Homo sapiens: one gene and its partner. The protein of the gene in region 2 purifies or fractionates together with the protein of the main gene of each other region. This does not show direct contact. Each region holds a gene or a part of one and is shown on either strand. Other genes may lie near its edges.

Evidence for each region. The genes of interacting proteins can lie anywhere in the genome.
Region 1: the proteins of TRMT6 (region 2) and KLHL22 purify together in Homo sapiens (co-immunoprecipitation; 3 studies listed by BioGRID and IntAct, with this or other methods). This does not show direct contact.

The regions. Positions count from the first base shown.
Region 1 is NC_000022.11:20,464,674-20,471,976, reverse strand, and holds part of KLHL22 (kelch-like protein 22), read left to right. Parts: intron 1-461; coding exon 462-627; intron 628-6,400; coding exon 6,401-7,119; intron 7,120-7,303. UniProt on the Homo sapiens protein: Substrate-specific adapter of a BCR (BTB-CUL3-RBX1) E3 ubiquitin ligase complex required for chromosome alignment and localization of PLK1 at kinetochores.
Region 2 is NC_000020.11:5,947,350-5,954,800, reverse strand, and holds the start of TRMT6 (tRNA (adenine(58)-N(1))-methyltransferase non-catalytic subunit TRM6), read left to right. Parts: upstream 1-4,267; 5' UTR 4,268-4,395; coding exon 4,396-4,523; intron 4,524-7,451. Other genes in the region: DNA helicase MCM8, read right to left, coding at 111-193, 2,273-2,377, 2,638-2,785. UniProt on the Homo sapiens protein: Substrate-binding subunit of tRNA (adenine-N(1)-)-methyltransferase, which catalyzes the formation of N(1)-methyladenine at position 58 (m1A58) in initiator methionyl-tRNA.

The DNA of each region.
Region 1 (7,303 bases), on a different chromosome or scaffold from region 2:
CCGTGCCTGGCCTCCTTCTGCTCTTTGAATGATACTTGGCATTTGGTAGGAACTCCATAAATATACATTGAATGAAATGACTTTTATTAGTTTCCCATTAATTAATTCATTGCTTTGAAATGTGCTCTGGAGTTGCTACTGCTCCGATCCAGGAACTGCACTGATGAACACAGCAGAAGCAAGCTGCTTGTGGCCTCACCTCCCGAAGCTCACATGGGACTCCTTGGGCCCATGAAAAGGGAAACAGGACAATTTCCAGGATGGCTGCCCAGACTTCGTCAGGATCCTTTTGTGGGATGGCTCATGCATGCACACAGTTCACTCAGAGCACAGAGTGGGTCAGCCCACTACCAGGGCCCTGCCACCAGCGCCAGGTTCTTCTCTGAATGCTGTCACTCTTGGCAACATGGGCTTAAGTCCCTGTTGGTATAACTCCATTTTCTTGTGTCTTCACTTTGCAGAGGAATGTTTGCTGGGGGATTGAAGGAGATGGAACAGGAAGAGGTCCTGATCCACGGTGTGTCCTACAATGCTATGTGCCAAATCCTACATTTCATATACACCTCCGAGCTGGAGCTCAGCCTGAGCAATGTACAAGAGACACTGGTGGCTGCCTGCCAGCTTCAGGTGAGGCATGTCTCATCTAGCAAGGCAGACCCACACCCAGGTGGGGTTCCCTGAGATGCCCATGATGCCTGCCGGGCACTAGCATTGGCTTGAAGATGGGTCAGGAATGTGAGGAGACCAAGCAGTGACGAAGGCCATGAAGTGGGGAAGACTCTGGAGTTGTTCCTGGAGCTCAAGCAGAGCCGCTCTAGACACCCCAGGCCTCTGCCTTTGCCCTCTTCTCTATTGCTGGTTGTTTCCCCACTGTCTGAGTCTCCCTGTCATTGAAAGCATCCTGCACATAAGCAGGTAGGCTGACCCGAGGCTGCATGTGGACGTCCTGTGTGCTCTGGGGTCTGGCAATGGGGAGCATCCACCAGCATTGCTGCCAGGGCCCTTCCTGCCTGTCCCCTCACTGGGCCACTTCAGTCTCTTGAAAACTTATGTGTTTTGTTACTGAACTTTATCTATCTATTTGTCTGTCCATCCATCCATCCATCCATGCATGCACGCATCCATCCATCCATCCATGCATGCATGCATCCATCCATCCATCCATCCATCCATCCATCCATCCATCCATCTATCCATCCATCCATGCATGCATCCATCCATGGTGGCAGGCATCCATCCATCCATCCATCCATCCATGCATGCATCCATCCATCCATCCATCCATCCATCCATCCACCCATCCATCCATCCACTCATTCAATTTATTGGAGACAAGCTCTCTCTCTCTTGCCCAGGCTGGAGTGCAGTGGCACGATCACAGCTCACTGCAGCCTCAACCTCCTGGGCTCCAGCAATCCTTCTGCCTCAGCCTCCCAAATAGCTAGGACCTATAGGCATGTGCCACTACACCTGGCTAATTTTTAAATTATTTTTATAGAGATAGAGGCTTGCTTTGTTGCTTAGGCTAGTCTTGAACCCCTGGCCTCAAGTGATCCACCTCAGCCTTCCAAAGTGTTGCGATTACAGGTGTGAGCCACTGCGCCTGGCCTATTTTTTTTTTTTTTTTAAAGACAGGGTCTCACTCTGTTACCCAGGCTGTAATGCAATGGCATGATCATAGTTCACTGTAGCCTCCACCTCCTAGGCTCAAGTGGTCCTCCCGCCTCAGCCTTCTGAGTAGCTGGGACTAAAGATGCGTGCCATTGTGCCTAGCTGATATTATATATATATATATTTTTTTATAGGAATGGGGCCTTGTTATGTTGCCCAGGCTGGTCTCAAGCTCCTGGCCTCAGGTGATACTCCCACCTTGGCTTCCCAAAGTTCTGGGATTACAGGTGTGAGCCTCTGTACCCAACCTGTTATTGAACTTTAAGTACTTGTTTTCCTGCAGAATTCAAAAAGTTTTCTGAGGCTTTGACAGTGTGACTTATGTTTTGGATGATTATTCTCAGTGGTGTGGGTGCAGTTACACGGGACTGGGCCTGCAGGTGCCTTTGAGCTATCAGGCAGAGGCCTGATAGGAGTTGACAGTCACCTCTTCCCACATTTCTTAAAAGTGAAACAAAATGCTATGCTAAGTTCATCATTCTGACCTTTCTTCCCATGAGAGCAGGTTTGACGCAATTAAAAAAAAACAACTCAAGTCACAGGAAAACCAACCTGTTCGGGGGCATGTGGAGGTGCCACCCCATGTGACAGGGCCCTGGCAGCCTCCCTGTGCCCTGTTCTCAGATTGGTGGATAGGACCTGGATGCTGGGTGGGTTGATCTGAGATGACTGACTTGTCTCACCATACCTGCATGGTGAGTAGATGGAGTTGGCTTTTACAACAAAAGAATTTCCCCCTGTTCTTTTATTTAGAGATCTCTTCTGTCCCCACATCCCTGTCATTGTTGCTTTGGGAACCCTCATCCAATTCTCCACCCTGGCAGCAGTTAACTCCTGATTCAGCTGCCTCTGAAACATCTCCCCCAGCATGGCTCAGGTCCAGCTGTCCTATCTCCTCCTCCACACCTGCCACTCTCCCGGAGCTCCCCTGTCAGTCCCCCTGCTCTGTGTGTCCTGTGACCATCCTGCCAGTTCCCTGGGCTCAACCTCAGTGGCTCCTTGAGCCCGTCCACCTTCTTAATTCCCTGCGTCCATGTGAGGACAGGTCATCCTTCTCGGTATTGCTTGTAGCCATCTCTGTTCTGTGTTTCCATTTCCTTCCCTTTTGCCTGGCCTCCATCTGTATGTTTCTGCCATTTCTTTCTTCTCCCTGCAGTGATCACACACACTGAAACCAGATCATCTTTCTAACATCACTTTCCCTCTCTCACCAGTCAGCTTGGAGGCCTGCAGTCTCTCTCTGTTGGTTTGGCCAGTGCTCCCGACAGCCCTGGGTCATCTCCCCCAGTGCCTCAGAGGTCATCTCAGAGGCAGCAGCCTATCTTAGTTTTTTAACATATCAGGCTTCTGGGCCAGGCTTGGAGGTTCATGCCTGTAATCCCAGCACTTTTGGAGGCCAAGGTGAGAGGATTGCTTGAGGCCAGGAGTTTGAGATCAGCCTGGGCAACAAAGCGAGACCTCTACAGAAGCACTTTAAAAATAGCCGGGCATGGTGGCATGCACCTGTAGTTCCAGCTACTCGGGAGGCTGAGGTGGGAGAATCACTTGAGCCCAGGAGGTGGAGGCTTCAGTAAGCTGTGATCACCACACCACTACATGCCAGCTTATCTCAAAACAAAAAACAAACAAACAAAAAAAAACAGGCTTCTTCACAATATTGTTTTATAGCAGGTTTTACTTGGCATAACCATGTCAAGTCCATAGGCCTGTAGAATCATGTATGTTCACATAGCTAGTGACTTTTGGAGGCTTCCCCCATGTGTTGTGCCCTGCAGTAGGCCTGGGACCAGATTCTTCACGGTGTCCCCAGAGGCCTGAGTCTGATTCCCAGTAACACTGTCCTATTGGGTTACCCCAAGCAAATGCAGTCCCTTCTGTGAGCCTCGTATGGGGCTTTTGCACATCCTGAGCCCAGGCTGGTTCCTCTGTGAGATTTCACTGAACAGAAGGCCCACTGCTCTAAAAATAGGACTGAAAGGAGAGTCAGCAGGGTCCTCTCAAGGAGCTGCTGCTGCCCAGGCTTCTTCAGGGCTGTTTGTGCTCACATTCTGCCCAAAACTTGGTCTTCAGGACCCTGGCCCATGACAAACCAGAATTTTAGGAAAACCTAGTAGTTTGGGAAGAAGTGGCAAAGCAGAAGACTGGCAAAAAGGGAAAAAAGAAGGTCAAGTGAAGCTGGTCAGGGCCTAGCAAAGCACCATGGGGATACCTCATGTAGGGCACATACCTGCCTGACATTTGGTAGGTCTCATCCAGCTCTTAGCATGTCACCTTGCAAGCAATATTAGATGTCTTTTGAATTTTAAAAAAGTTATAGTTAGTGTTTATTGATAAGCTTTAAATACCTTGGCCGGGCGCCGTGGCTCACGCCTGTAATCCCAGCACTTTGGGAGGCCTAGGCGGGCAGATCACGAGGTCAGGAGATCGAGACCATCCTGGCTAACACGATGAAACCCCGTCTCTACTAAAAATACAAAAAATTAGCCGGGCGTGGTGGCGGGCGTCTGTTGTCCCAGCTACTTGGGAGGCTGAGGTGGGAGAATGGCGTGAACCCGGGAGGCGGAGCTTGCAGTGAGCCGAGATCGTGCCACTGCACTCCAGCCTGGGCAACAGAGTGAGACCCCATCTCAAAATAATAAATAAATAAATACATAAATACCAGCAGAATTATTCCATGTGTAATGGTTAATTTATTGATGATCCTGGATAAGCCAGGTATTCCCATTTTTAGAGAAACTGATTTATTGCATTGAACACATGGCTGGAGTTGGTAGCAAGGGGGTTCCCACAAGAGGGGACCCCACAGCATCCTGAAATGGAGCCGTTTTGGGATTCCAAAGAAAGAAGCATCAAACACCAGGGTGATCTGGCCAGAGCGTTTATTAGGGGAACTTATGTATAGAGTGATGTAGCATGTCCTCAAGACAGACAAGGGAAAAGAGAGGCTTTACCCAGGCTTGCCCACAGAGTGGGTTAGTGTATGGAGTTTCTATGAGGGTTTAAGGAATTTGTCTCAGGGCCAGAACCAGTTTTTCCTTCAGTGTTTTGGGTAACAACCTTGATGCCTTTATCAGTGCCTGGGAATGTTCAAGGGCCTGGTTTGGGTTCAAGCCTGCTGGGAGAACCTGCAGCTGTCTGGGTCACAGAGAGGTCAAGGTACTCGTCATTTTCAATCTGAACATGGAAAGAAAGGAGGTGGGCACTGGGGGGCCCCACTGAAACTCTAAAATCCTGCTTTCCTAAATAATTTATCAACACCTGGTTTGTTCTCCCAGGCAGTTTTCCCTAGGGCCCTTCCCTTTGTCTCCTATTCTCCCAAGATTTGGTTGTCTGTTCACAGGGTGGCCTTTAACAGCCTGCTGGTTGTGGCCTTGTTCCCACCTCCCTCCAGTGTCATTCTCTCTCTTGCCGTCCTTTCAAACCACTAGTGCTTCCCCATGGCTGGGAAGGGTTGATATGGCCACCTGGGAGCCCCTGCACTTACTGGAGTCAAGTGGGTCTTGACCCAGCTGGGAACCTCAAGAACCCTGAGTCAGGGATCACTTGAGCCCAGAAGCTTGAGACTTCGGTGAGCTATGATCTTGCCATGGCACTGCAGCCTGGGCAACAGAGCAAGACCCTGTCTCAAATTTTAAAAAGAAAAAAGAAAAATAATTCTAAATCAGGTTCCTGGGTGGGTATTGGTTAGGTGTCTGAGAGGCTCTGAGCACTTCTAGGGAACCAGGGTGGATGTTCTGGCGGGGGAAAAAGCCAGGTTTGTTTCTGGTCCCAGCGCTTTTGGAGAGGCAGGCTCTTCCAGAGAATCCTAGGGTAGGGATGGGGATGGTCTTAGGTCCTTTCCAAACCACAGATATATGACACAGTGACCATTTGTGCTGCTTCCTGCTTTTCTGGAGAGCCAGTACTTCTTTTTTTTTTTTTTTTTTTTTTTTTAGACGGAGTCTCGCTCTGTCACCCAGGTTGGAGTGCAATGGCGCGATCTCGGCTCACTGCAACCTCCGCCTCCTGGGTTCCAGCGATTCTCCTGCCTCAGCCTCCTGAGTAGCTGGGATTACAGGCGCGCGCCACCACGCCCAGCTAATTTTTGTATTTCTAGTAGAGACGGTGTTTCACCATGTTGGTCAGGCTGGTCTCAAACTCCTGACCTCGTGATACACCCACCTTGTCCTCCCAAAGTGCTGGGATTATAGGCATGAGCCACCGCACCCGGCCGAGCCAGTACTTTTGATCTAAGAGGGAACTGACATATATCAAGGGTCCACTCCTATGTGCTCTCTCATTTTCATCATGTTCCTCTTCACTTTAATGATCCCCGTTTTATAGATGAGGAGACTGAGGCTTAGAGAGGTTAAAAACATTCTGTACGGGAGGCTGAGGCAGGAGAATCATTTCAACCCGGGAGGGGGAGGTGTTAGTGAGCCGAGATTCTGCCACTGCACTCCATTCTGGGCAACAAGAGCGAAACTTTGTCTCAAAGAAAAGCAAAACAAAACCAAAAAAAAACATGCTGTATATCCTGTCACCCAGTATGTTTCCAAACCAGGACTTAAACCTAGTCTGCAGTAAGCCCCAGTCTCCAGTGTGTCAGAAAAGGTCGGGGACAATTAAGGAGGACTTCCCTTCTGCTTTGCCTGGCCCACAACAGCCCGTATTTCTGCCATCATTCTCTCTCCCACCCCCAGATGCTGTTCACCAGCCCAGGCTTGAATGGGTGTCATTCTCTCTGCAGATCCCAGAAATTATCCATTTCTGCTGTGATTTCCTCATGTCCTGGGTGGACGAAGAGAACATTCTCGATGTCTACCGGCTGGCAGAGCTGTTTGACTTGAGCCGCCTGACTGAGCAACTGGACACCTATATCCTCAAAAACTTTGTGGCCTTCTCTCGGACTGACAAGTACCGCCAGCTTCCATTGGAGAAGGTCTACTCCCTCCTCAGCAGCAATCGCCTGGAGGTCTCCTGCGAGACCGAGGTATATGAGGGGGCCCTTCTCTACCATTATAGCCTGGAGCAGGTGCAGGCTGACCAGATCTCGCTGCACGAGCCCCCAAAGCTCCTTGAGACAGTGCGGTTTCCGCTGATGGAAGCTGAGGTCCTGCAGCGGCTGCATGACAAGCTGGACCCCAGCCCTTTGAGGGACACAGTGGCCAGCGCCCTCATGTACCACCGGAACGAGAGCCTACAGCCCAGCCTGCAGAGCCCGCAAACGGAGCTGCGGTCGGACTTCCAGTGCGTTGTGGGCTTCGGGGGCATTCACTCCACGCCGTCCACTGTCCTCAGCGACCAGGCCAAGTATCTAAACCCCTTACTGGGAGAGTGGAAGCACTTCACTGCCTCCCTGGCCCCCCGCATGTCCAACCAGGGCATCGCGGTGCTCAACAACTTCGTATACTTGATTGGAGGGGACAACAATGTCCAAGGATTTCGAGCAGAGTCCCGATGCTGGAGGTAGGACAGGGTGCTAGCTGGTCCCTTTGTCTTCAGGTGATGAGAGGGTGTGGAAGTCATGGGCTGAGAGAGCTGGTCAGGTTCCCCCCAGCCTTTCACATGAGCATCACTTGCCATTGTGGAATGAAGTCTAGGTGAATTCAGAGAAGGTGGACAGCAGTGAGATAAGAGAAGGGGACATGTG
Region 2 (7,451 bases):
GTCTGAACCAAGGAAGTCTGACTCCAGTGCCTACGATCATAATCACAAGTACCTCGAATACATTGGTAAGATGGCACATGACTGGTAGCTTTGCTGTAGAGGAATCTTACCTTGTCATACAAATCAATATGCCTTGTGAAAAATTTTTCAAATGCTTGAATCTTCTCAATCAAAGGAGAGCTATCGCTGTAAACTAATCCAACAAATATGGCATTAGCACAAATAATCACACAGGTACATGCACATTTTTCATGAGACAAAAGCAGCACTATATACATGGTAGATGATTTTTTTCTAATTGCTTTGTATTTTGATTACATTCATATAAGAACTAGTATAGAATGTAAACTTAAGATTCTAAAACAAATTTAGGTTTGCATAATGTGAAATGCAGACAGAAACTCTCTCTCTCTAAAAGCCCCACTATCTGGGAAACTTTGTTTTGCATCTTTGACACCTAATAGGACATGTTAGTTCAGATAATTTAGACAATAAGCTTAAACTAAAAATTATAATAAAGCCAAAGCCAGACACATAAACTAAGCTCTTACTCTGACAGAGCTGAAGACAATCACAATCACAGTCTTTCCTGAGATCAGGAGACAGACCAACACTTGACCCTGGTGGCAAAACTGAAAAGCCTTTTTTTTTTTAACACTCTAAAGTTCTACATTTTCAAATATGTCTCTCACAGAAGAACAGTACAATAAAGTAGTTTGGAAGCACAGATGGTGAAGGCTAAGGCACCTCTTGAACTCCATCTTTAGGACTGTCCAAAGATCACTTATAGTGTTCTGAGCTATCTGCTAGGGGAGCAATGGGAGTGCTGGTGGCTAATACATCCTAAAGGAACAAAAGATCATTCATGAAACAGATTCTATTGATGGAAAAAAACGAACAGATTTCCAATAAAGAAAACATTTGTAAAGTACTCTATTCATTCACAAAATGACTACTGCATGCCTGGTATGGGGCAGGGAGGGTCCTGGACCTCAAACGTCTAGTTTTCCTAAAAAAAAAAAGTATGCGGCTGGGTGCGGTGGCTCACGTCTGGAATCCTAGCACTTTGGGAGGCCGAGGCGGGCGGATAACGAGGTCAGGAGATCAAGACCATCCTAGCTAACACGGTGAAACCCCGTCTCTACTAAAAACAGAAAAAATTAGCCGGGCGTGGTGGCGGGTGCCTGTAGTCCCAGCTACTCGGGAGGCTGAGGCAGGAGAATGGCGTGAACCTGGGAGGCAGAGCTTGCAGTGAGCCAAGATCGCGCCACTGCACTTCAGCCTGGGCAACAGAGCAAGACTCCATCTCAAAAAAAAATAAAAAGTATGCACACACACACACACACACACACACACACACACCCCTCATGAGACATAAGAAACAAATGGGTATTTTAACAGCACAAAAAAGACAGTTCCCTGCACCTATACAGACTGATGTAGGTTAATTGGTATTCCTAATTATCAAAGGGAGATTCCTTACCTGTGTTTCTACACAAAGCTGTATTTGTTATTGTCCCTTGATTTCAGGCCCACTGTTCTACTTCCTGCTCTGCGATGCTATAATTCAGATCTGTACCCTACATGTCTCAGATTCTCTTTAAATTCTGCCAATTGAAGGCACTTTAGAGACGGGAAGGTGGCAGGAAGAGAAAGGAATTTATTCTTGTTTCCAACTCTTTTCAGCATCTCTGCAGCTGCAGAAGATAACGATAGTGCTAGCCTCCAGTTCCAAGCACCACTGAGTCATGCCCCCTCAGTTACCAGTGGCAACCAGCTTCATTTGCCTTAGTGGTCTAAGCACAGCTCTGTAAGGTAGCCTTCAGAAGTCCAAGCATAGCTTTGTAGGGTGCCCCTCAAAAGTCAAAATAACAGCTATGCTGTGACCTCTCCAACCTTTGAATTCCCACATTCTGGTAACCTCAGAACTTCTTTTAGTCTCTTAGCCATAAGGATGGTTGCTGCTTCCTGAATTACTACTTTCTGGGGAGTTACCTCAATATTTCCTTTCTGCTCTTTCAGTCTTCCATTTTTGTATCCAATTTCTTGTATTAAGTCCCCTTTTTGAAATACCTAGTATGGTTTCTGCTTTCCTGACTGATATAAAGTCTAAAATGCTTTTGAAACATAAACATCATTTAATTGTTTGGGTGAACTAAGATTAAAGCAGGTATATGTTAGTAAATGAATTACAGTAATACAAGATGTAGCATCCAAAGACAAGTTAAGAAAATATGATTTATGGTGCTTTTTTGTACTTTTTAAACCCTACCTTCAGAGAAATAAAGCTTCCAGCCTTTATATGGTATGAATCGATCCAATGTTGACTGCATTGACTGTGGGGTCTTTGTTGAAAGCAAAAACTGTGGGGTTTGTTCTGAAAAAAATAAAATACTAGGTTAGTAGAAACAGAGTGAACATTTTTCCAATATGCTTCTCTTTCCAAATGAGACTCTCATTAATAGAGTATCCAAATTAGGGGTTTTAGTAAAAATCTGGGACATCAATGTTCAAATACTTACTAAGGAGTAGCATGAAATAAAAGACAAACTGAAGTATGAGATAAACCGCCTTGTATGATAGACGTGAATTGCTTCCTTAAGTGAAAAAAATTGAACAATCATTGACCTCACCTACCAGAAGTACGTTTTCCTGTGGTTTTACTCAGATCAGGTCTGTGTTCTCTTTCTCTCCATTTTCCTGAGAAGTTCCCACCACCTCTTCCCCTTTTCCAGCTTTGAAATCTTCCTCGTCCAAATCCTCTGCCTCTATACTCTCCATTCATCTCTCCTAAAAGATAGATATTAAAAAGGTCTTCACCAAAACTGTAAGGAAAATAGTGCTCTTAAAAATGTATTAATAAAAAGGGAAAAATTAATGTATTCTAGGTTCAAGAGTAGCAAACAGGCTTGCAAAGTTGTACAGCTATGATACAAGACCCAAATATTCTGCAGTTAAGTTTCTAATCTCTATCGCTTTTTAAGGTATACCATAATAGTTTAATAACTATTAAATATGGTTTACGTATACTAGACGCTCACAGGTTAAAAATAAGGACAGGTACTGTACCTGTTTACAAGTCCCCATTACAGAAATGAAAATAGGACAGGTAATTAACTCTATGAAAACTTATTTGCAGTATTTGAGACTTCTTATTATAGGGCAGGACAGGATGAACATAATTCTGGCCTGTGAGACACTAGGGATACATCATCATAGCTTCTTACATACAGTCAATCCTGCAGTGTCACATCCATTTTTTGTGCAGTTTTTCTGTAAATCCAAAACTGTTCTTATAAAATACACGTCTACTTAAAAATGATTCATATCCTAAGTATACAAGTAAATAAAGATATACCTGTACGCTGCAGTGCAATTCATTATCAAATACTCTACCCAAATCCTTACTTAAAAGGGGTTTAGTTAATAAAACAAGATAGTAACTAGAAAGTTCACGATTTAACGGCATGACAGGGCTCCAATAATTAGGCATTACACATTATGAAACTGATGCTCAAAGAAATTAAGCAAACCGATCAAGATCAAAGTTGTTTGTCGACAGTACAGAGATAAAACTTTCAGCCTCCCAAGCTGAGGCGCTCCTTCAACAACGCTGCGTGCCATACCCTTCTCAAACGAGACAATATGCTGAGAACAGTAACAAATTCAAAAAAACGTTAAGAAGTAGGACTGGAGAAAGAGTAAAAAGAAACAGTTGGGTACCTGTGCTTCTTCAAATACTACTTTATTTACATCTCCTAAGGCTAAAGTTCTTACTTGCTTGGGACAGAGGTCCCAAAGCTCTCCTAGTTCACAACTGGGCCGGCTCCAGGATACGCGCAGATCTGTCCGGCCGGATTCTCCCTCCCTCCCTCCCGTAGAGAAGCACCACGGGGCTAAGAGTCTCCGGGATCTTAGCTCCTCAGGCGACTCCTGCCAAGTCCGCAGTTCTCTTCAGCCGCAGCTTTCCTGTCGTCCCCGCGCGGTGCTGAACCCCATCTGTCTCAACGGCTCGGGAAACTCAGTTTCCCCACCGCAGCTTCCAGAAGGTGTCTGTAGCGCACAGCGCCGCAAAAATGCCTCAAGCGAAAATCAGGTCTTCCCCTAAATTCTTTTTTGGCGCTTCAGTGATCCAACTTCCGCTCAAAGAAGCGGCAAGACGAGAGGGGCGGGGCGGAGTGCAGCCAATCAAGGAGTTTGGCCAGACGGAAGCCGAGAGGCTTCCGGAAGCGGTCTTGAGGTCTGGGCCGGAAAGCGGAAGCGGCGTGCAACACGTGGGGGCGGTGCCGGTCGGAGGGCTCCTAGTGCGCCAGGTTGTGGGAAGTGAGGCTGGCGGTGGCGACAACCGAGGAGGAGGGGCGGGACGCCGTGGAGCACGGCGACCGGCTGAGCGTCATGGAGGGCTCAGGGGAGCAGCCGGGCCCACAACCACAGCATCCCGGAGACCACCGCATCCGCGACGGCGACTTCGTGGTGCTGAAACGTGAAGATGTGTTTAAAGCAGTACAAGTCCAGCGGAGAAAGTAAGTCAGATCGCTGATTTTAGGGGTCTCCCGCCCCCACCTTGTAGATACCCCCTCCCTCCAGGTTTCTCCACAGAATTCTTCCGCCAGGGTGCCATTCTTGGCTCTCTCGGTCCCCATTCCCCGCCCTCGTTGTCTCCTCGGGTCTTTCTGTCACAGAAGGCTTTTCCACCAGGATCCCGTCTTCGAACCTCATAATCTCCCTTAACCCTCCTGTTTTTCCCGGAGCCCCCTCCATGATTTCATATCTGGCCGTCCACCTTCAGCATCCTTTTCAGTCTTTCCACAGAGTTCCTTCCCCAGAATTCCATTCTTGGCCCTAGGGTGCCAATGCCTCCCTCTCCACACCCTAATCACCTGTCCTGAAGTTCTTTCCCTAGGACCTTGGGATCTTCACTGTCTTTCCAGAGACACCCCCTCCTTTCTTCACTTTAGGATCTCATCCTTGTCTCCAGAGTCTCCTTCAGGTTCCCCCTTTTTTTCCACCATAGATCCTCCTTCTTCCCTAATCCCCCAGTCAGGATCTATCCCACAAAAAATGAAACGTCTCCTACCTAGTCTGGCTTTCTATCCTCTTCTCTACCCAAGCAGGATACACAGAATAGATGAAGGAGACAATTCACCACAGAGTGTGGAATCACTTTGAGTTTCCCTCGTTTTACTCACCAAAGGATTCAACGCTGGGAAAATTGCTAAAAAGCAATTTGCTCAAGGCCTCAGAACTCCAAATTAGGTTTGGTTTGTGCACCTGCTGGCTAGTATCGCTCTGTTTTATAGAAGTAAAGAAGTGGGATTTTGATAACTTTCTGGAAGGGCTGGTGAGGTTGTTAAGTCCTAAGAGCTTATTAATGGTGAAAATTTATTGGGATATTTGGATTAATTTATCTGAGAAATACAACCACAGTGTTTTTGTTTTTGAGACGGAGTCTTGCTTTGTCACCCAGGCTTTAGGGCAGTAGTGCAATCTCGGCTCATTGCAGCCTCTGCCTCCGAGGTTCAAGCGATTCTCCTGCCTCAGCCTCCCTAGTGGCTGGGACTCTGGCACCATCACACTCGGCTAATCTTTTTTTTTTTTTTTTGTATTTTTAGTAGAGACGGGGTTTCACCATGTTGGCCAGGCTGATCTCGAACTCCTGACCTCAGGTGATCCACCCGCCTCGGCCTCCCAAAGTGCTGGGATTACAGGTGTGAGCCACCGCACCTGGCCACAGTTTCTTTTGAGCTAGGTTATTGTATTACTTTTGACAGAGATAAGTTGAATGCAATGTCAGGAGAACAGCTTTCTGCAGACTGGGAAGTATGAGATTTGGAATTTCTGATAAGTACTTACTTCAGATGAATTCTTTTACTCCTGGTTTAAGCAAACTGTTGACTGGTATTTAAGGTGAAGCAAGCATCATAAAATAGTCAAGAAACAAGTCTCCAGAGCACTAAGCTGGTGATAACCAAGCTTTTTGCACAAGCACTAATTTAGTAAAGATAAAAAGTTTCTTTTATGAGGGGTATGTTTCTTTTAGTCCGGAAATGTAATACCTGCACCAACCTTTAACCATTTTTAAATTCTTCTTTTTTTTCTTTTTTAAACTAATTAATTTTTTTTGCAGAGACAGAGTTTCACTATGTTGTCTAGGCTAGTCTCCAATTCCTGGGCTCAAGTAATTCCGGCCACCTCAGCCTCCCAAAGTGCTGGGATTACAGGCATGAACAGTAGTTGACCTTCCCCTTTTGTGGTGCCAAAAGGGTTGGAGACCACTGCCCTAAACATTTATTTGGAAATACTTTTCAACAGGCCCTCTTCTTCGCAGAAGTCATAGTGGCAGTTTCCATTTTATTTAGGAAATGACTCTCTCAGCTCAGCTGCATCCCAGGTCAGACTCCCTCATCACCCTTGGGGCTACACTCATCTGATTGGGCAAAAAACAGTCCAGGCTCTCTGAGAAGTAGACTCTGCAAATCCTACTCCTTCCCAGTAAAGATGTGGCCTCCTTATCCCTCTAACGGGGCCCCACATTCCCGACTGGGGCAGTGACCTGTCAAACCAGCCAGTTTTAAGTGACACGCATCATCCCCTCTGCATATCACATAGGCTCTCAGAGAGGTAAACCCACCCATCTCAGATCCAGTGTTTTTGTTTGGTTTGTCTGTTTGTTTGTTTTGTGAGACGGGATCTCACTCGGTCCCCCAGGCTAGAGTGTAGTGGCGTGAACTTGGCTCACTGCAACCACTGCCTCTTGGGCTCAAGCAATCTTCCACCTCAGCCTCCTCAGTAACTAATTTGTGTACTTTTTGTAGAGAAACTCCTGAATTCAAGTGACCCTCCTGCTTCAGCCTCCCAAGTAGCTGGGACTACAGGTGTGTGCCACTACACCTGGCTAATTTTTTTATTTTTTGTAGAGACGGAGTTTTTCCCCGTCAGCCAGGCTGGTCTCAAACTCCTGGACTCAAGTGACCCACCTGGCCTCCCACAGTTCTGGGATTACAAGTGTGACCCACCACACCTGGCCAGATCCAGTGTTTCAAAGCACCTAGGTGATTAAAGGATGAGGATAGGGGGTGCACATCTGGGCTGAGCTGAATTGCAACATCTGAGGAGGTTTACATTAGCAAATATTTTGAGTGTCTGTTACATTCTGTTGTATGTAAGTATCTAGGGACCCAGCAAATAACAAGAATTGGCCATATCTGAATCACTTACGATCATACAGGATTTCCCTCAGATGGTTTGAGTAAGCTTTAATGAAGATGTGACTCAAAAGTGTGGCCGATTTAGGGAACCAATAAAGGTGACACACCCAGAGACCAGCAATGGTGGTAAGCCTCTGACACGGGAGCGTGGGTGATGTGGCAGTATATTCTGTCGTAATCAGCTTCCTGGTGGCACAGAGAAAGGAAGAGAAGGAGTGGGATGGGGCACAATCAGAATTAACC